Linked DNA regions of Homo sapiens: all the other regions are linked to region 3. The links come from fine-mapping of genetic effects on gene expression. A gene starts in region 3. Each other region holds a variant in brackets. All regions are shown on one strand. Distances are from middle to middle.

Region 1 (5,379 bases), 110 kb before region 3:
GAACCTGGGAGGCGGAGGTTGCAGTGAGCTGAGATTGCAACACTGCACTCCAGTCTGGGCGAGAGAGCCAGACTCTGTCTCAAAAAAAAAAAAAAAAGATCCTGCTGCAAAAAATCGAGGAAGCAATGAAGAGTGTTTCCCTCCAGGAGTCTAACACTTGGTTAAGGAGTCCAGTATTACCAGTGAAAGAATTTCTGTACTATGTCAAGTACAAGTCAGCGATGATCAAGAGTTAGATTAAGGGGAATGCAGATTAACAGTTCAGAAGGGGAGGTCCAAGAAGACTAGAATGGTTGGCGAAGGCTTTGCCAAGGAGGAGGGAGTGGGCTTGTTTTTGGAGGAGGATGTAGATCCACCATCACCACCACCACCTTCCTGTTGGCCTCCTATATGGATACCCGCCACACTCCAGTCAAGAGAGGCCCAAAAATCTACATCTAACATGCCAGGCATATTGAGGAATTAAATTGTGATGTATATGGTCAAGATCTCAGGAACATAGACATGCAATGGACCAGGCCATGTGGCAGAGGAAGCCAAGGGCTAGAGGCACCCCTGGAGGTAGTGGAGGAGGGCACATCTGAGAAACCACTCGAGCCCCCGGATGCCCTATGTCCAGCCCATCTGGGTGTGTGGCCAGCAGGCCGGTGCTGAGGGTCCCCCATAGGTCTGGCTGCTTCGGCCAGCAGGAGGATGGAGAAGTGCAAAGTCACATTTCACTCAGTGAAAGGGAAATCGGCAGCAATTAGCAGCCTTTCCTTCCATGCTGACGTTCCCTGTATGGGCAGGGAGGCTTCCCAGCTTTCATCCCGTACATCCTCTGCCTCCAGTGGGACCCCAGAGAGGCAAAACAGGTGGCAGGAATAGGAAGGCAGACCTTCCTGGGTACGGGACCCAAAGCAACACTGTGTTTCCACCTCTCAGCCTCCCCACTATTTTTATAGAGAAGAAACAGGCTAAGGTGAATGCCAAGGGGAAAGTAAGTTATAAATACATGCAGAGAGGAGAGAAGAAGTGGGGTATGTGTGTGGAGGAGGTGCAGTTAGGGAAAATGGCAGCTGTGATTCTTGGCTGTTTTGGTTTCAGTTAAGCACCCAGGGCCTTCTCCTCCAGCTGCCTCTCTGGGTCCCCACCCATCCCCAGGCAGGGGAAAGAGTGCCTGGGAATCCAGTGCTACTCAAATGGGGGGAGTCTGAGTCAGGGTTGACCTCTCACTTCCTATACCCCTTACCTTCACTTTGCTTTTTTTTGGTTTTTTATCCAAAGCCTTACCTTCCCCACCCTTACCTTCACTTTGCTTTTTTTTGGTTTTTTATTTTTATTTTTTTAAAAGAAAGGGCAGGTTCTATGTTTCGGTTTTGTGTATGTGTATGGTTTGTGTGTGTGTGTTTTAGTTTTGTCATTGTTGTTGTTTTTTGTTGTTGTTGCTGTTTGAGACGGAGTCTCACTCTCTTGCCCAGGCTCACTGCAACCTCTGCCTCCCGGGTTCAAGTGATTCTCCTGCCTCAACCTCCCAAGTAGCTGGGACAATAGGCACACAACCACCATGCCTGGCTAATTTTTATATTTTTAGTAGAGATGGGGTTTCGCTATGTTGGCCAGGCTAGCCTCGAAATCCTGACCCCAAGTAATCTGCCCACCTCAGGCTCCCAAAGTGCTAGGATTATAGGCATGAGCCACCACGCCCAGCTTGTTTTTGTTTTTTGAGACAGGGTCTCACACTGTCGCCCGGGCTGGGGTGCAGTGGCACCACCATAGCTTACTACAGCCTCAACCTTCTGAGCTCAAGCAATCCTCCCACTCTAGCCTCCTGAGTAGCTGGGACTACAGGCAAGCACCACCGTGCTTGGCTAATTTTTGTATTTTTTGTAGAGATAGATTTTCACCATGTCGCCTGGGCTGCTCTCAAACTCCTAGGCTCAAGTGATCGCTTGGCCTCCCAAAGTGCTGGGACTGCAGACATGAGCCACCGTGCCCAGCCCTGCTTTGCTTTTTTAAAAAATGTAAATCATCTACTTTCTTTTCTTCTTATTTTTAATGGTGGTAAAAAGCACATAACAAAATTTATCATCTTAACCATTTATAAGTGTTCAATAGTACTAAGTATGTTCACATTGTTGTAAACCAATAGCCTGAACTCTTCATTTCGCAAAACTGAACTCTGTATCCATTAAGCAACCACTCCCCATCCCCGCAAGCCCCAGCCTCTGACAACTGCCATTCTACTTTCTATCTCTATGAATCTGACTGCTTTAGATACTTCATGTAAGTGGAATCATACAGTATTTGTCTTTTATTTCACTTAGCACAATGTCCTCAAGGTTCACCTATGTTGTAGAACATGTCAGACTTTCCTTCCTTTTTAAGGCTGAGTAATATTCCCTGGCATGTATGTACCGCATTTTGTTTATCCATTCATCTGCCAATGGGCATTTGGGTTGCTTCCACCTCTTGGTTACTGTGAATAAGGTTCCTATCAACATGGATGTATGCAAATATCTCTCTTCAAGACTCTGTTTTCCATTTGTTTGGATATATACCCAGAAGCGGGATTACTGGATCATATGGTAATTCTATTTTTTATTGTTTGCCATAGTGGCTGCATCATCTTACATTTCCACCAGCAGTGCACAAGGGTTCCATTTCTCCACCTGCTTTGCGTTTGAGTCTTTGAGAACTAGGAGCTGCCCCAGCACCTCTGGACTTGAAATGAGAACCCAAGACCTCAGTCGGGTTTGGCCTGCAATCTCAGCCCTTCTCTGCCTTCTCTTCAGAACCCCCTATTTTCATTTCTGGAGAAATCTCATGGCCATTATCCAGCCCCTGAGGAGTCATGACCTCCAGCAGGCCTGAGAGGAACAAAGAAAACCAGGGCTTCCAAGGCAAGGAGTAAAACAAATACCCAAGAGCAGTGGTCTCAGGTAGAAGCTCCCACAGCAATGAGACAGATTTGGGATGAGGAAGCAGTGGGTTACCACCTCCTCCTGAGTTGGCTGCGTGGTCCACAGCAAGGGCAAGGAGATGAAAGGAGAGTCTGGACTTGGGAGAACAGGTGTGGAAGTGCAGGAACAGG[C/T]GTGGAGGTGCAATGCCACTACCACCTCTCCCCCATCCACCATGATATCCTCCAACCCAGCCTCTCTGCTTTGTGGTGGAGAGTCAGCAGCCAATAGTCTCATTCTAAAATCCAAATCTGGTGCTACCATGTCCTGGCTTTAAACGTTTCTGAGGCTCCTTACTGTCCTCAGACTAAAGTCCAGATGCCTTGCACAATTACAGCCCTGCATGACCTGGCCTCGGTATCTCATGCTGGCTCTCCCGTCACTCTGAGATCCAGCCACATCAAATGTGTTTCAGTTGCTAGAACAAACCACACTTGCTGTCTCCTTTGGGCCTTCATACACAATGTTCTCTCAGCTTGGAACATTCTCCTCCACACGACCCTTTTTCCTTACCTTTTCATCTGGTTAGTTCTACTCATCCTTTAGGTTTCAGCCTAGATGGCACTTCCTCCAGGAAGCCTTCCATGATGTCCTCCAGTTCTGAGTCAGGACCTCTTCTCAGTACAGCCACAGGACTTATTATACTAGGGGTGTAGTCTCCTGACTTGGCTGTGTCCTTAGAATACTCGGTTCCATGAAGAGAGCAGAGTCTTGTCCACTTCTTTCCCTAGCACCCAGAACATGGCCTGGTTCAGTGTAGGTGTTTATTAAAAGCTTTTTGAAGAGTGAATGAATGAGTGAATGTGTGAAGGACTGAACCATGAGGATGATGAGACCTGGGAGTGGTGGGTGGGCATCAGACTCCTACCCCCCCGCCCCGCACCCACACAACCACAGAGGGCTCTAACCTGCCACCATATCAAGTTAAAAATCAGCCAGAGCTTTTGATTTCTTTCTTTGCTTTTAGTGCCTCCCCAGAATTATGGATAATAAGGGTAGGGGAAAAAAGGGGCAGGGACCACACAAATGAAACACAAACCCTTGAGTTTCTTTGGAAAACTGCTCTAAAGCTCTGGGTGATGGGCATATTTAAATTTATCTGGCTTTACCCTGCCACAAGGCACTTAGTAATGAAGAATTCATGGTTTCTTCAAGCCCCTCCCTGACGTTCCAGCTTCCGACCAAAGATCATGTTCTGCCCCCTCCAGACCTCACCACCTCCCACCACCCCACCCACACCTCCTCTTCCTCTTGCTAGGAGATGGCTATGATCTATGGATGCCTCCCTGGGAGCCGGCCCGGCCCCCAGGCCCAAGGAGCCAGGTGTGACAGTGATGTATGAGTCTGGGCTGGACTCTAATTGGCCATTCCCTGTGGAGCATGGAGACTTAGCAAGACAAAAATCTACCCTATTGCATCCTGAATCTTTTCCTGTGGCTGATAAACAGCAAGTCCCTGAACTGGGAACATTCAGACGGGAAGAGCAATGATTCAGGGGAGAGGAGGGGAGGAAAGCCTGCCTCTAGAAGTGCTCGTGCTCACCCCAGGGCACCAGAGCTTCATATTCTAGGGACACAAAGGATTAGAAAATTTTATGTAAGTACTATTGTCATGTCATTTTAACTAAAAACAGCATGCGGAAGCCCAAAGAATTTCCACATCTATTAGCCCTTTCACTCCCATGCCGTCCAGGAGAGGATGGGAGGGGTGGGCAGGGGTCTCTGTACAACTAGAGCTACTATTATGGATTATTATTATTATTGCCCCCATTATTACATTGTTTATGACACATTATCCTCAATCCTCCCAAAAATCCCAGGAGGTAGGGAGTCGTTTGTGTCATCTAAAGCAGTATACAAAATTATGTTTTACAAGAAGACTAAGTATAATTCTGAATTCATGATTCACGAATAATTCATGATCTTGTTTTATTTTGCTTTGTGTTTGTTTGTTTGTTTTTTAATGGACTTTACTTTTTAGAGCAGTTTTAGGCTCAGGGCAAAATGGAACAGATGGTACAGAGAGTTCCCACACAGCCCTGCCCTCATGCTCACAGCCTCCCCCGTGCCCCACCACAGTGATCCATTTGTTACAATCAATGACCTACATGGGCACATTGTTGTCACTCGAAGTCTCCAGTTCACATTAGGGCAGCTCTTGATGTTATACATTCTGTGGGTTTGGATAAATGTATAATGACATGTATCGACCATTAATTACAGTATCCTACAGAGTACTTTCACTGCCCGAAACATCCTCTGTGCCGTGGTCAAGAGTTTTAACCTCACATTTAGACAAAGAAACAGAGGTCCAGAAAGTTTATGTGATTTACCCAGTGCCAGGTCCAGGATTCAAACCAGAGTCTATCGTATTCCCGAGCCCAAGCCCTCTCTCCCCTCTAGCACCAACCTCTCCCATGGCAGGTGGGTGAAATGTGGAC
Region 2 (5,379 bases), 57 kb after region 3:
CTGGTCACTTTCTCCCTCCATCCAGTGTGGGGACGACCTTCGCCAGGACATGCTAACGCTGCAGATGATTCGCATCATGAGCAAGATCTGGGTCCAGGAGGGGCTGGACATGCGCATGGTCATCTTCCGCTGCTTCTCCACCGGCCGGGGCAGAGGTCAGTTGGGAGTAGGGGTGAGGGTGGAGGAGGGGACCGCTTTGCTTATTGTCCTTCTGCCCATTGCCAACACAAACTGTGTCCTCCTCCAGGAAAGTGAAAAGGGCAAGATTATTTCATGAGAAGCTGTGGGATAGCCTTAAAAGGGAGGCATGGGAGAAGACTGTTATAAAGTAAAACAGACTTGGTGCCGTGACAGCCAAGCATATTGTGTAGACTTTGGATCCTGATTAAAACAAACCAATTGTAAGGAAATATTTTTTGGGCCAGACATGCTAGCTCATGCCTGTAATCCCAGCACTTTGTGAAGCTGAGATGGGAGAATTGCTTGAGCTCAGGAATGTTTGGGACCAACCTAGACACCTCATCTCTAATAAAAATTATAAAAAATTAGCCAGGCCTAATGGCATGTGCCTGCAGTCCCACCTCCTCGGGAGGCTGAGGCAGATGGATCGCTTGAGTCCAGGAATTTGAGGCTGCAGTAAGCCATGATGGTGCCACTGTACTTCAGACCAGGCGACAGAATGAGACCCTGTGTGAAAATATATATATAGAGAGAGAGAGAGAAGGAGAGAGACAGTTGGGGGAAGTTTGAATATAGATTGAGTTAGATTAAAGAGTGATTGTTAATTTTTTGGATGTGACAATGGCATGGTGTCTTTGTTAATTACACTTGAAATATTTATGAGTGAAATAAAGTATCTGGGATTTGCTTTAAAATACTCCAACCAAGGTGGCAGGGAGTGGAGAAATAGGGTTGTGTGATTAGCAAACAAGATTAGCAAAATGTTGACAATTTTTGAAGCTGGGTGATAGTTACATGTGAAGTCATGATACCATTCTTTTTATTCTTATATATATTTTCAAATTCCCATAGTAAAAGCTAAAAACAAAGGGAGCAGCAGCTATGAACTGGAGAGACCAAAAAGTCACAGTATGGAATAGGAAATGTGGGAATGACCTTCCTTTCTATGGTTATTCTCTTCCTGTTATTATCAGACTTAGTCCAAATGCCTTACAGCTTAATTTATAGGGAAGCATGAGCACAGTCCTTGTAGTCCTCTCCCTGCAGTCCCCTTCATTCTGGTCTGGAACGTGACCCCCATTTCTCCCCTCACAGGGATGGTGGAGATGATCCCTAATGCTGAGACCCTGCGTAAGATCCAGGTGGAGCATGGGGTGACCGGCTCGTTCAAGGACCGGCCCCTGGCAGACTGGCTGCAGAAACACAACCCTGGGGAGGACGAGTATGAGAAGGTAGGGTTGTGGGTGGGGAGTGCGTCTGGTGTGTGTGTGTGCCTGATGCCGGCACACAGCTCTTTAACCACAAGACCTGCACTTGCTCAGAGAGGACAGCTCAGCTTTGTTGGCAGAAGGACCTACCCTTTCTTGGTTGACTGGTGCCTCCAAATATCTGGGGGTGACTCACTCAAATGCCTCTTGTAAGCTGGCTGAGAAAATCCCCTGATGCTGGACTGAGAAACTTTCACTGAGTTCTCCTGGCAGATTAAGTCTTGGAGGAGGCGCCAGCTTTTGAGAGCCTATCTGTATCCCTCCCAGTTGTGGATCCTCTTCAGGTTCCCTTATGTTCTCAGAGGGTTCAGTGGTACTTTCTAGAAAAAGAGTTGGTTGGAAGAGACTTTAGAGATCATTTTATGCCAGCCCCTTCTTTTCATAGCTGTGAATTAAGATTCACTCATTCATTCCTAGTTATGGAGCTGATATGTGGCAAGGCTGTAACTCAAAGCTAGGATTGAGGTTAGATATGAGACAGAGACGAGTGAAAACAGGGCTGGCTGGTTCCTGATGAAAGAAGATTAGATTAGAAGTGGAGCTTTCCTGGGTGGTAGGGCCCTGGTAGCCTGCTAGGGTCCGTGGCCTGTTCCCAGCATCACAACTCTAGTCTCTGGGTTAATTAGGTTGAGGAAAGTAGGGACACTGGGAAGGAACAAATCACAATAACCAAACTCACAAGAGACTGGCTATAGGCCAGAATGCTAATTCGTATAATTTTAACTTCAAGGGACCCAAATACTGATTTATATTGATCAATGTACTTTATCCTGGAGGGAAAACCAGCATGGGCAGCCAAGGTATAATCAGAACATTGTTTAGTGAATGTGTAATTAGATGATCTTAAATGGCTTTCAGTGTTTGTGTTCCCCGGGGCTTAATTCCTGGCCTGCTGGGCCCTCTTTGCACTCTTCTTGTGCCAGCTCATCCTCTTATTACTTCAACTACCACCTGTATCTTGATGACCTCCGAAGCCATTCCTCTAGCCCTCTTCCCTTCCTCCAGGTGGTTCTATAGCCACCTTCTTGCTGGACTTTTCCACCTACGTTTCACCCACGTCTCAAACTCGGTGTAGGCAAAACTGAGCCTGCTGTCTCTCCTTTGCCTCTTGAAACCTGCTTTTTGTGTTTGCTATCAGTCAATGGTGTGACTCTTTCTGTGCATTTACCCAAGCCAAAGCCACGGTCTTCCTGATGCTTCCCTCTATCTCACTTCTGTACCATGCTCTGTTTATTCTTCTTCCCAGCTATCTCTCAAATCTGTCCTCTTCTTCCTATTTTGTTACCATTGATTTTGTTCAGCTCTTTGCTGTCGGTCCCCTGAACCACTGGAATGCCTCTCCTCCATCTAGAGCCAGCCTCTGCTTGATTTCAGAGGTGTTTTGTTGTTGTTGTTGTTGTTTTGAGACAGAGTTTTGCTCTTGTTGCCCAGGCCGGAGTGCAATGGCACGAGCTTGGCTCACTGCAACCTCCACCTCCTGGATTCAAGCGATTCTCCTGCCTCAGCCTCCCAAGTAGCTGGGATTATAGGCGTGCACCACCATGCCCAGCGAATTTTCATATTTTTAGTAGAGAAGGGGTTTCACCATGTTGGCCAGGCTGGTCG[C/A]GAACTCCTGACCTCAGGTGATCCACCCACCTCAGCCTCCCATAGTGCTGGGATTACAGGCATGAGCCACAGTGCCCAGCTGTTGTTTTTTTTTTTAAGTGTGGATAAGTTCTTCAAAGCCTCTGTGTATCCTAACAGATAGCATTGCACACAGAGCCTTTTATAATCCAGCCCTGCTGACTCCTGTAATCCCATCCACTGCAACCTACCATCTTATGCTAACCTATGCTCCAGCTAGGTTACTAGCTAGATCATGCGGTGGGGGCAGGGGGGGCTACTACTTTCATTTCTGCAGTACTGTAGGCAGTAATATTTCCTTTGCCTGGAAAGTCATTTCTTCCCTTCTCATTCCTCAAAACTCTGCCACTCTATGCTATACATTTCAAGGCCCTCTACCCTTGGAGAGGAGTAATGATTTTTTTCCTTTCTACTACCAACCTCCCATATACTTACTCTTTATGCTAATATGCATTTTTCAGGTATTAAACACCCATATGCAGAGGCACTGTACTAGGTGCTGGAGTTGTGATTACTCCCTGCCAATGTAATAGTCATATATGTGTAAATGTATGGAAATAATACTAAATAATAATAAATGTACAGATGAATGTATAAGAATATAATAAAAATAAATGTACAGAAGAATGTACGAGAATACACACAGAGAGAAACTAACTCTGCATGTTCATGTTTAATCTCAGTCTTTCAAAGATAGCTTCTCTGCCCTTCTAGCCTTTCTCCAAGAATAATGCTGGTAGTTTCTTTTTTTTTGAGGCAGGGTCTCACTCTGTCACCCAGGCTGGAATACAGTGGCACAATCACTGCAACCTCCACCTCCTGGGTTCATGTGATCCTCCTGACTCAGCCTTCCAAGTAGCTGGGACTACAGGCATGTGCCACCATGCCCAGCTAATTTTTCTATTTTTCGTGGAGATGGGGTTTTGCCATGTTGCCCAGGCTGGACTTGAACCCCTGGGTTCAAGAGATTCACCCACCTCAGCCTCCCAAAGTGCTGGGATTACAGGCATGAGCCACCACCCCCAGCAATGCTGGTAGTTTCATTTGATGACTTCCAGAAGAAAGAAACTAGAGGTATTTTCTCTTGGCCACCTACTCAGCAAGAGAGTATCCCACACCCTACACATGAAACCCCTGAAATCAGAGGCAGAGTGTCCCTTTATAGAGTGAGACTTCTTGCCAGTAAGTGGCTAACACCCTGCATAACTTAGGGAGGTGAAAAGAGTTTAGTCATTTACCCACAGGCACACAGCTATTTTCTCAGCCAAAATAGGATTCATTTAAGGTAGAAAGAGCATCTGTGACAGGGAGAGGATTTGATAGAGATCCAGGTCACGACTGGGAGTTACGCGTTATGCTCCTTATTAAGTGCTTTTATTCATTTATTTTACTTTCTAAGAAATAGTCTTTTTCTTCCAGAAGATGAATGCTGTGATTTCTTTATAACCTTTCCATTCTTAGTTTCTGGTGGATCCATCATCAGGTTGTAATTCGACAAGTAGCTGGGTGGGTGCATTCTGTGTGGAGCTAGTTTTGCAATAGGCATTGTGAAATAGGCAAGAAGCTGTTAGGAGAACAGATCTGTAAACCCCATGGGACTGAAAGGGCAAAGTCAGTGCTGTATGAATGGAGGTGACAGTGCATCTGTAGGGGTTCAGAGGAGGAGAAGTCAGTATGAGCTTGGAAGGTCTGGAAAGTTATGGGACTCAAGGTCATTGAAGGATGATGGGTGGAAATTTATGGAAGGAGGCAAGGAGGGCGGGCATTCCATATCTAGTAAGCTTTCCCTCATTCCTAATTTCATGCATTCCTACCTGGCTATGACGATCATTGCTCTCTGCTGATGTCTTTCCTGAGTTCTTAGGAATTCTATAAACCTCACGAAGAGGATTTTGAAGGCAGGAGTGGTCTATTTCCTCATTCCATGTAGTTTTTCTTTCTGGAAAGACAGATAAGGGGATGGATGTTGACCAGACAAAATAAGATGGAGTCAACCCCTCACCACTCCTCTCCTGCTTTAAACTCAGAAATATCTCTAACATATTTTACCAACTAAAGATGTCCCATTTTCAAGTGTAAAACACTCTCTAGACGTGTTAAGCTGCCTCAGCTCTTCTTTGGAGTGCAGTGACTTTAATTAGATTAGCATTTAGCTGTTACCAAGAACTCTGGAAATGGGAATTTTATTTGGGGCAGGAAGAAGGATGATAGAATTCTGAGCAGGGTCAGGAAGAGATTCTTAAGTTGGCTTCCTCAGTGGCTGTACTTAAGATCATCACGGCCAGTTGGGGAAGTTGTAAATGTCAGT
Region 3 (5,379 bases):
GGCATGGTGGCATGCGCCTGTAGTCCCAGCTACTCAGGAGGCTGAGGCAGGAGAATCGCTTGCACCCGGGAGGCAGAGGTTGCAGTAAGCCACTGCACTCCAGCCTGGGCAATAGAGTGAGACTCGGTCTCAAGAAAAAGAAAAAAAGAAAAACAAAAGAGAGAGGGAGGGGAGAGAGAACCACCCGTGGAAGCTGTGATCTTTGGTTGAGGGTGGCAGCCAGCGCACTGTGACCCCAAAGAGAGGAATCCTGAAGAATAAATATCCAGTTTCCCCTGACCTCCCTCCTTATTCAATCTTCAGCCATGGCCCCCATTGGCCAACCCAGTCTAGGAAGCCAGAGGGCCAGGAAGATCTGGAGGGGCAAACGGAAGACATGCAGTGCATCTTCCAAATCCTTCTCTATAATATGCCAGGAAGTCTTTTTCTGGTCACACTACTTCCCAGTTCCATTTGTGCACAGCAGGTTCTCTGTCACCTACAGCACCTAAACTTTTTGGCATGCCCTGGTTTCTCTTTATTCAATTTTTTCCTTACCAAAATGCATGATAAAGCCTGTGATCTGATCCTCCACTCAGCTACCTATGCCTACTTCCTGTTAGTTCTTTCCTTCAGACTTTTCACCCCAGCAGCATAGAACCACCAGTGGTCGCCGGGCGCGGTGGCTCACGCCTGTAATCCCAGCACTTTGGGAGGCCGAGGTGGGTGGAACACAAGGTCAGGAGATCGAGACCATCCTGGCTAACACGGTGAAACCCTGTCTCTACTAAAAATACAAAAAAAAAAAAAAAAAAAAAGAAAAAATTAGCTGGGCATAGTGGCGGGCGCCTGTAGTCCCAGCTACTCCGGAGGCTGGGCCAGAAGAATGGCGTGAACCCGGGAGGCAGAGCTTGCAGCGAGCCGAGATCACGCCACTGCACTCCAGCCTGGGCGACAGAGCAAGACTCCGTCTCAAAAAAAAAAAAAAAAAAAAGAACCACCAGTGGCCCCTGTAACACTCTGTTCTCTCAGGCTCCTGAGCTTGACCTGATGACAGACACAGAGTAAGCTGTCATAAATATTTGTATGGTGAAGAAGTGCACGGACACGTTTTTTAACCCCTGTGGCTCCTGAGATCAGGAGTAGCATCATATACATTATGACATATGTGCAGACCAAGCTGCCTTCAGTTAATTATCAAGATGTTTCACCTACATTCTCTCCTTTGATCATTACGAAAGCGTGATAGGTGAGGACGCTATTCTTGATATTCAGAGGGTGAAGTGGAATACTGAAAGTCACAAGCATTGGGTACAGAAGGCACTGTAGGATCAGAAAGGGGAGTGATCCCTTTCCTCCCCATCATAAGAGTCACAGCCGACACTTCTATAACAAAAGACAAGTTAACCAGAGAAAAGCATAACAAATTTATTTAATCATGGTTTTACTTGAGAGGCTGAGGACCAGGTGTTAATCTTCATAGTCTGTCGAGAAAGAAAGAAGAAATGAGGGCAGTGGAGGAAAACACGATTCACGTTTTTAGGAAAATATACTTTGAGATTAGTGATCGTTGGTACTATGCAAACCAAATGCAAACGAGGAGCTGGCCAACTCATGGTTTCTTTTGGGTGGAGCCTTTAGGAAAATTCTTCCAGAGACCACTGCTGGAAGAAAGGTATTTAGAGTAGAAAATTTAAATATAACATATTGTATGAAAGGTTTTTTTTTTTTACTTTTTTTTCTCACTACCCTAGTTGGGTTGGAGGATCCTCTATCTCCCCTCCCTACTTAGGTTGACTGCTGTTTCCTGGATCGCAGCTCGGAAGATCCACCTGGGCGAATACAAAAACAAACGAGACTCCCCTTCCAGAAAGGGAGGAAGGAAGGAGACAGAAAGACGAATGACACTGAGCGTGTAAAGCCCGGAGACAGCCTCTCTCTACCCCAACCTAACCCTCAAGGTAGGGGATCCCCCGAACATCGCTACCGTAATTATGGTAGAAATTCCTGAAACGGATAACTGGACCTCAGCACCGTCATTTCTAGCAGAATGATTGAGCTTTCCTCTGACCCAAAGCCAAGGGGTTCCAGCAGGGGAAACTAACGACCATCCGCAAAAACCCTCACCCAAGTGGGGAGTGGAAATCCTGGCTCTTGGGTTGCAGAGCACAACTTGACGCCAGCGCGTTTCTCTTCCCCCACGCAATGGCAAGTGGGGCGGGAGTCGGAGGGGAGAGGAGGAGAGGAGAAGAGAAGAGGAGGGGGAAGGGGAGGGGAGAGGCGAAGGGCGGCCCGGGTTCCAGCAGCCGCCCCGCCCTCCGGCTCGCGGCGGATTCGGCGCTGCGGCTGGAGCCGGCGGCCGGGTGCCTGCCTGTCCAGGCAGGGTCTGGCCGAGCGTCGCGTCGCCGTGCAGTGCGCCGGGTGTCCGGGAGATGGCTTCCCCTCTCTCGCCCGCTGCTGCCGCTATTGTCTCACCCGGGGTGGCCTGACTCTGCGAGCTCGCGCACGCTCTCGGCGGAGAGCACCCCTCCCCACCCCCACAAGCTGGTCCTTGCGCCCTTTGCTGCCTCTCCCTCTGCCCCTTGGAGCCTAGGGTCTGTGCGGAGCCTGGAGAGGGGAGCGGCCCGGGAGCAGGCGGCGTGCGGCCGGCCAGCTCCTCTCGCGCTGGTGCAAGAGGCGCCTGGAGCCGCAGAGCGAGCCCGGGAGGCGCGGAGCGAGCAGCCCACGTCGCCAGGCACAAGACACGTCGGATGTTGCAGCAGAGCCAGCAGCTAGCGCAGGTAGGACACGCATCCTGCGGGTTGCATCGGCCCCAGCGTCTGTAAAGTGCCCCCAGAGTGGAGGCAGCCGAGGTCAGGGGGCTCTCCCTCCAACATGGCAACAGCGGAGGTGCAACAATGGAAGCAGCCGAGGGTTCCTGGCGGCGGGCTGAGCGGCGGACGCCGTGGGAGCCTGAGCTCCTGCCCGCCGGGCAGAGCAGGTTGCCCCTCACCCCACTCCACTCCACTCCAGCAGCTTCAGGGCCTCTGGGGCTCCAGGCACCCGCGTCCCCACCCCCTTCTCGCTAAACACACTTCCTGGCTCCCAGCTGCAGGGCGATCTGAACCAGTCAATGGCTTTGGGGTTTGTTTATTTAAGATAAGAAATAAAAAAAGCAAAACCTGTCCTGTGATGGGGTTAGTGCCTTCTGTGGACTGGGTGAGAAGTCGGCATCTAGCCTGGGGAATGTGTACGTTTCTTAGTCGGGCGGAGGGTAGAATTGGATTCTCCCTTATAAGGATACTGCAGCAAAAGGAGACTGAAAGCTTGAAAGAGGGAGAGGGACCCTCAGGCCTGAGTTCGCCGGTGCTGGGAGAAGGCGCTGCTCTCCTGGCCTATACTTGTCCCTCATTTTCAGCTCCCGACAGCGGTGACTTTGATGTTGGAGGAGCAATCGCAGCAGGAAGCACAAGCAAGGCTGCCAAGCTGGTGTGGGGTGGAGTAGGGTGGGGAGCCCAGGGGCTTGGCAGGCTTCTGGATTGTGGGAAGAGGTTACCAAATGTATGAGGTTAGTGCACACACCCTAGTTGGCTGATGTTGAAGTGTGTGTGTGTGTGTGTGTGTGTGTGTGTTTTCTGCCATTGCTCTTGCTCCTTCAGGCCTGCCTTTTCTCCTCTCCACCCGCTTCTGGGGTCTTCGTAGCTTCCCTGCCCCAGCCCTTCCAATCATGCCTGGGATGGAATCGCTGTATTGTCTCTGGCAGCTCTCTTGGGCTGTTTTTTCTCAACTCTGTTGGAGAGTTTTGTACCCTGGGCTGGCTGGTCCCAGCATGGCACCAGATTCTTTAGCAGGCGGCTACCCGGGCTCCAAGAAGTGGGCCAATGCTGCCCCTCCTCCTTGCTCTAAACTACCTATTTGGGATATGGCCAGGCAGATGTAAGCAATTTGTACTAAATTCCAACCCTGAATCAGTGCTGAATGAAAACTTACTCTGTTGCTGCATCAGGCTTTGGGAAGATATTAGGAAGAGAAATGGCCCAGGAGGTGGCAATGCCGACCCCCAAATACTTCCCTCTCCCCAACTCCAGCTGCCGATCCCAGAGCAGACAGGCAGTGAGACTTTGGAATCCCAGCTCCTCCAGAGTCTGGCTGGCCCATCTTGAGGTTGTGTCCATGGAAAAATTAAGTCGAGGCACATTTTATAGCTCTGCTTGGCAGCCAGCATCTGAAGAGATGGTGGCTCTGAGCTGGAGCCCTAGACCCAGGCTGTGGCTGCTTCTCCTTTGGCCTTTGGGTGAGCCTGAGGTTTGATTGCCATGGCTCTGAGCTTACTGCTGAGTGTGTATGGCTGAATCTGATCAAGCTCTCAGACCCGGCTGCTTGTCTATTTCCTTCTCCACTGGAAGCATGAGTGAGAAAGGGCCAAGGGGGTGTGCTGGGTGAGGAAGGGTCAGTTTATCTGGGGACTTGGGCTGTTTCTGGGGGAGCTCCTTTGGACTTCCTTGGTGGTCTGGAATGCCTTTGGTCTTTGTCATGACCTAGTATGCTCTGGCAGATACTCTATACCCTCGTGGGCCTTTGGTCCCCGCTTGGTGGTGTCCCCACTCCTCCTGTGCCTGGTGCTTTGCATCTATATCATGTCTGTGGTGCTTCAGCTGGGATGGCCCTGGCCTGGACCAGTGGGTAGAAAAATGAGGTCTCTGTTCCTTTTAGGGGCTTGTAACTAGCTATAAGGTTCAGGCTCCTCATGTTCCCAGGATGTGAACTTGGACATCATAATGTGAAGTAGTAGAGAAAACAGTGTCTTGGTGTGACTTTCTTTTTAGCTATGTGAGCACAGACAATTTGTGGACCTAAGATTTAGTTTGTATATTTGTAAAATGGAGGTGGGGGAGTAGCCATGGCTCACAGGATTAATAATGAAATGCTGCTTACCAAGAACTAAACAGAATCATGTGTGCAAAAGTACCCTGAAAACTACAGAGTACTTTACAAATGATTATTCTTACTGGGTTTAGCCTCCCACATAAGGGAGGGAGATCTGTGAGGGATGGGGATAGGGTGGGATCTGAGGGCCACATGGAGTAGGGAATGTTTTGGGACCTTTTCTTTCTTGCTAAGGAAAGAGTAGTGTGACAATACCAAGGTAACTGCTGTATTCCTTGGGTATTTTTCTTTAAATAGTGTTGGCAGGATGGGAACTGGGAGAGAAGGAAAGGATGCCTCATGATATTTGTAGGAATTGAGGAGGGATAAACACCTTCCAAAGGCTGGCTACTGCCTATAGAGAGGATAATGCTGAGCTGGCAAGTAATGTAATCACTAACACTCACTGATGTCAGCCAGCTAGTAAATGATAGAGGTGGGATTTGAAGCAAGCAGTCTCACTCCTTACCCTGTGTTCATAGCCTCAGTGCTACT
Region 4 (5,379 bases), 31 kb after region 3:
AGCTTCCCTGGGCACCATTTGGGCCGCCCACCTGCTCTAGCCTCAGTAGAGGGGCTGGGAAAAACAGCTGTCTGCTCTGCTCCCTGTCACGCCTCTGGGAGAATCCCCCGGAAAGCCCGTGTTGCAGGAGAGGCCCAACAGCACTGGATTGCCTTACTGGCTGCCTCACGCTTATCAGACTGTCCCCTCCTGAAGTGGCTTTGGCCACACTCTTGTCCATCTCAGCCAGAGCTTCGCCTCCTTCTTCAACTTGGCTCCTGGTCTCCTAGGACAGCAGATACATGTATTCCCGGATGTCCCATATGTTCTTGTGCCCCTTTCATTGGATGTCGAGTGACTAGAAAGTCTTTTCATCTAGAGTTTGAGTTTAGGTCTGGAGTACCTCATAGGGAGGGGACACCACGAGGAAAAAGGCACTGAGTCGTCTGCTCTTCTCTTAAAGGTGGGCTCCCGGCCCCACACTGTTGCCAATGGCCATGAGTTGTTTGAGGTCTCAGAAGAGAGAGATGAGGAGGTTGCTGCATTTTGCCACATGCTGGATATGTAAGAGTTAAAGAATGGGGTGGGATTTGGGAGGGCTATGGGGGATGGGGAGGGGGGCCATCCATTTCCAAACTTTCTTTAGGAGGGAAGAAGCACCATAATAAGTAAATCTCAGTTCATAGCTATGAAAATGCTTCCTACAACAAGTGTCTGCAGGGTTTTTGAAATCTTAGAAGTCTCACATTTTTAGCAAAATTCATGAAACCTCCATTGAATGGTCAAAGTATCCTGATCACTCTAGAGTCTGACCCTCAGTTGCCCTTAAGAGCAAATGCACCCCAGCTGGCGATAAGAGTGTTATCTGGAACTAAAAGAGAAAGGAAATGGATTCATAAAAAATTTTCCATTAAACTTAGCATGGAAAGCTTTGTCATTTTAGAACTATTTGTACTGTTCAATGGTGGGAAACATTTTGCAATTATAAGAGAAGTGTCAAGAAGGGGGTTTCTCAGAGCTGCTACCCCACTGCCCCCATCCTGGCCTGCAAATTTGGAGGGCTGGGCTGAGTGGGGACAGAGGGGCTCTTGAGCCTCAGAGCATGAGGTTCCCAACAGATGTCTTCTTGACTACTCTCTTCTAAAGGCACAGTGAGGGTTTTTTTTCTTCCTGTACAGCCTTCGATCTGGCTCTGACATCCAAGACTACTTCCTCACTGGCTATGTCTGGAGTGCTGTCACCCCTAGCCCAGAGCACCTCGGGGATGAGGTCAACCTGAAGGTGACTGTGTTGTGTGACAGGCTTCAAGAGGCACTCACTTTCACCTGCAACTGTAAGTTAGTGAGGGGGGAGAGGATGTGAGCATCCCTTGAAGTGGGGTGGGGATGACTGTGTTTTGACTCGATTTCCACCTCATCTTGTGGCCCAGATGAAGGGCAGTGAGGATGCTCCTTTGGGGGTGAGGGGCTGGCTATGGGGCCAGCATTCTAGTACAGTCACTTTCCTCAACTCTGAACTACTTGCCTGCTTTATCTGGTTGGTGATGGTGCTGGAGAATACTTAGCTGGAAAGGGGGATCAGGGTGGGGAAACTGAGACCCATCTGCCTTGACATCCATCATGATTGCTCCCCCTACCTTACCCTTCACAGGTTCCTCCACTGTAGACTTGCTTATCTACCAGACCCTGTGCTACACCCATGATGACCTGAGGAATGTGGACGTGGGTGACTTTGTGCTAAAGCCCTGCGGGCTGGAGGAGTTCCTGCAGAAGTGAGTGAATGGGTGGGAGGTAGCCCCTGCCTTCCTGGTAGTAAGATTGTGAGGGGGCTTCATGGGATTGGTGCTGGGACCGGCCTGGCAGCTCCGCCCCAATCCCACAGTCAAGACTCCTGCTTTCTGGGCACACTCTCGGCCACGTAGCACTTTCCCCAGGAGCTCTGTCTTCCAGCAGGGTTGGCTGACGTCCTGAGCCAAGTCTGCTGTGGAAAGAGCTTGGAGCTGGGATTAGGCAAAGACTAGGTCATATCTGCTTGCAGATTCTGCTTATGGAGAGATGTGTGTATTTGTGGGGAGGGGTGGGCTTGGGGAGACTATATGGGTAGTGCTGTATCTCCTGCTCTAGATTATGTGTGGTGTTTTTATGGCTGGGGCAAAATGAGGACTGGGCAGAAGTTCCCTTGTGGAGCCCAGGGGAGAAATTACAATTACTGTCTCTCCCCATTCTCCTGCCAACAAGTCTTTTCCCCAGCTGGCCCGTGCAGCTAGTTATCCTCCTCCCAAAGGCGTGCCTCCAGCTCCTCTCCATCCAGTGCCCTCTCTGGAAAGCAGCCTCCCTGGAAAGTCTGATGTGGACCAGCTGAGGCAACCCCCTTTCCACTACCCTGGGCTCTGGAGGGCTGCAGTGGAAGAGAGGCAGGGGCAAGGTTATCACTTCTCAGATGGTACAGCTGTGTGACAGCAGACAGATAAGATCTGCTTTCCTCTCTTAGGCTTCAGAGCCGCTCCTGCCCCCAGTCTCTGTCCACTTGGAGGAAGCACGTTTTGGGAATAGAGAAAGGAGAGACCTGTGTCTCACTTCTTAGGAGTGCCCTATAAGTGCCACTGCTTGCTTTTTCTCTCTCTTACATTCAGGTCTAGATGCAAGGATGGTTGATCTATGTCTAGAGCATAAGATTTGGCAGTCAGGATGGAAGATTCATTTCTGGACTTCTTTCTTTTTTTGAGACAGAGTCTCACTCTGTCGTGCAGGCTGGAGTGCTGTGGCGCCATCTCACTCAGCTCACTGCAACCTCCGTCTCCCAGGCTCAAGCGATTCTCATGCCTCAGCCTCCTGAGTAGCTGGGATTACAGGCATAAGCACCACCACGCCCGGCTAATTTTTGTATTTTTTAATAGAGACTGGGTTTCACCATGTTGGCCAGGCTGGTCTCGAACTCCTGACCTC[G/A]GGTGATCTGCCCGCCTTGGCCTCCCAAAGTGCTGGGATTACAGGTGTGAGCCACTGTGCCCAGCTATCTGGGCTTATTTCAAATTTAAGGATATTGTGGGGTCCTTTCTGGCCTCTGCCTCCTCATCTCGAAGCTAAGGGAAAGGAAAGAGGCAGGGTTCTGTATGGTACAACTCCAGGGTACCCTTCAAATGTGCCCCACCTTTAAACTCACTTATGTACACACTTTTCCCCTAGAGGAACAGGAGGGGTCCTAGACTCAGGGTTGCCTGGCAGAGAGAGTGCCAGGTGGCCTGCCACTGTTAGAAGGGAAAAAGGGGACATAGTGGATAAGTTGGAGCTCCTGCTGACGCCATTACACAGGTTTGAATTCGGACTTGCCACTTACTAGTTGTGAAGGCTGATTGATGCTCAGGGCCCTCTGTAAGCTGCAGTGAGGGTGAAATGTGAGAATGACCTGTGAGCAATCAGTAAATACCAGCAGGGAAGGAGCAGCCCACGGAGAGAAGTCCTAGGGCTCTGGGCTGCACAGATACTGCCATTTCCCTTGCAGCACCCCAAATCCTGGAGCCCCTGGGTCCGGAGGTAGTGGGAGCTGTCAAGTTCTACCTTCCTGCTAAGACTCAGGTGAAATATTCTTAGTGAGGTGGGACAGGGTCAGCGGTCCTCAGATCACACCCCTCATACTCTCACTTGAATGCACAGAGAGGAAGGCCTTCCACAGAGAAGATCAAGCAAGTCCCCAGGGGACCTGTGTGCATGACTCCTGGCCTAGGAGCCCCACTCCCACCCAACAGAAAAGCACAATGCTGTCTCCTGGCCCAGCCCCCAGACCCCCAACACATGACAACTGCCTGGGATGGGGGTGGAAAGGACGCTCCGGGGGTTCCAGAAATCTGCTAGTTCCCAAGGAAGCCCTGAGATTTTCTACCCCTGCCTGGCAGGAGGGGCTGATACTGAGGGGGTGAGTGGGTTCAGGATGCAGGCTGCTCTCAGATAAGAACCTTGAGGCAGTCCCGTGGGAGGGTTGGGTTTCCTGCCACCTCCCCCAGCCCCACCACACTCTTCCTTCCTCCCAGGCTCTCCCACCAGGCCCAGCCCCACAGCCCAGCCTCACCACCTCCAGGTTTTGGCTGCACTTCAGTCTTAGATCTGAGAGGGTCTAGATCGGAGATTTGGTCCTCTCAGGATGTGGAGAACCCCTCACTCGAGCCCTCATGGGACCTAGACGACCCTGGGCCCTGCACCTCCGCCAGCTTTTACATATACTGCCCCCCTTATGCTCCTGTCCTCTCCTCTCCATTTCTGGCCTAGATTCCCAGCTCTGCTGAGGAAGGAAGTCCTTTTCCGGCTTCTGTTACCCAGCTGCTGAGGCCAGGCCCAGGCCTGCAGTGCTGGCCTGGAGGTAGTTCTCCCTCTGCCCCTCCTCTTGGGTTTCCTTGCTGTTGAAGGTGTGATTTGGGAGAGAGGAAGAGGTTGGATCGCCGAGGGCTCCTAGGCCTTCTCTCTGAAAGGGGGAGTCTCACACATGGGTGCTTGAGCAGGTGGGACTGGCATGCATTTGGGACTTTTCAAGAAGTCATAGAAATTTGTAAGGTTATTCACAAGCAGGCAGGGCCAACAGATGGAAGGCAGAAAAAGAAGTTGGGTGGGGACACTGATCTGGAGGCTTGGTAGGCTTGCCCCAAGTTTTTTTGGCCTCAGCACCCTAGTTGGTAGCATTGGAAGAGGGGTCTCTCGCTGAGCTCCCACCCTGGAGCCTGAGCACAGGTGGACTCCAACATGTCTCTTCCTGGTTGTCCCCTATACAGAGGCCCAGAAGATAGGGCTTCAGCAACTGCTCCCTGTGATGTGCCTCTGTTTCCCCGCTCTCTCCAACAGTTCCCAGCCCTGGAGTGAACCAGTGATTACCACACGGGTAATAAATATCTAAGAGAGTCAATATTTATACCGGCCAAGGATTAAGTATATTAGGTGGCTTTTGTTTAGATAGACCTCTGTTCCTTCTCCTAAGCTCTACCGTGTCATTTTCTAGGAGCCAAAGTAGGGTACAACACGGGTACTACCCCCTTACCTAAACCTTCTTTCTGTATGTCTCTCCCCAAGGCTAAGGTATGTATCTCCCTTGCCACTGAGTCCCCAGGATGCTAATGGTCTTGTCCCTCTACCCTACCAGCAAGCATGCCTTGGGCAGTCATGAGTACATCCAATACTGCCGCAAGTTTGACATTGACATTCGGCTACAGCTGATGGAGCAGAAGGTTGTGCGCAGTGACCTGGCCCGGACGGTTCGTGTGAGGGTGGTGGAGGGTTGCCCAGGGCTGGGGAGGTGGAATGGGAATACAATATAGAACACATCAGGTGGGAGGGGGGTAGGAGTGCTGAGCTGAGATAAGGGCACCGCCCCTCTCTGAATAGGTCACTTCTTATACAGGTGAATGATGACCAGAGCCCC

The links. PIP is the estimated chance that this variant, and not a neighbour inherited with it, causes the effect. A credible set is the group of variants that fine-mapping cannot tell apart.
Region 1: its variant is the best candidate, but not a certain one, in a credible set for the expression of PIK3C2B in whole blood (TOPMed, PIP 0.78).
Region 2: its variant is the best candidate, but not a certain one, in a credible set for the expression of PIK3C2B in esophagus mucosa (GTEx, PIP 0.70).
Region 4: its variant is the best candidate, but not a certain one, in a credible set for the expression of PIK3C2B in whole blood (TOPMed, PIP 0.50).

What each region holds. Positions count from the first base shown.
Region 1 is chr1:204,601,225-204,606,603 of GRCh38, reverse strand. LRRN2-AS1 (LRRN2 antisense RNA 1) reads right to left here. Exons shown (of 13, transcript XR_007066814.1): 7 at 3,453-5,379. Among named protein-coding and RNA genes, the nearest start is that of LRRN2-AS1, 40 kb to the right of the region's middle. The variant C/T (reference allele first, on the strand shown) is at 3,074.
Region 2 is chr1:204,434,968-204,440,346 of GRCh38, reverse strand. It overlaps PIK3C2B (phosphatidylinositol-4-phosphate 3-kinase catalytic subunit type 2 beta), which reads left to right. Exons shown (of 33, transcript NM_001377334.1): 22 at 26-155; 23 at 1,276-1,412. Among named protein-coding and RNA genes, the nearest start is that of PPP1R15B, 26 kb to the right of the region's middle. The variant C/A (reference allele first, on the strand shown) is at 3,054.
Region 3 is chr1:204,491,736-204,497,114 of GRCh38, reverse strand. It overlaps PIK3C2B (phosphatidylinositol-4-phosphate 3-kinase catalytic subunit type 2 beta), which reads left to right and starts at 2,310. Exons shown (of 33, transcript NM_001377334.1): 1 at 2,310-2,759. LOC124904584 (translation initiation factor IF-2) reads right to left here and starts at 5,364. Exons shown (of 2, transcript XM_047439554.1): 1 at 5,354-5,364; 2 at 1,383-2,939. The coding sequence starts at 5,364. The coding sequence ends at 1,919. RefSeq lists silencers at 2,161-2,630, 4,190-4,269 and enhancers at 2,731-2,860, 2,931-3,120.
Region 4 is chr1:204,460,383-204,465,761 of GRCh38, reverse strand. PIK3C2B (phosphatidylinositol-4-phosphate 3-kinase catalytic subunit type 2 beta) reads left to right here. Exons shown (of 33, transcript NM_001377334.1): 3 at 443-543; 4 at 1,158-1,312; 5 at 1,630-1,750; 6 at 5,101-5,212; 7 at 5,359-5,379. Among named protein-coding and RNA genes, the nearest start is that of PIK3C2B, 32 kb to the left of the region's middle. RefSeq lists a silencer at 3,267-3,561. The variant G/A (reference allele first, on the strand shown) is at 2,925.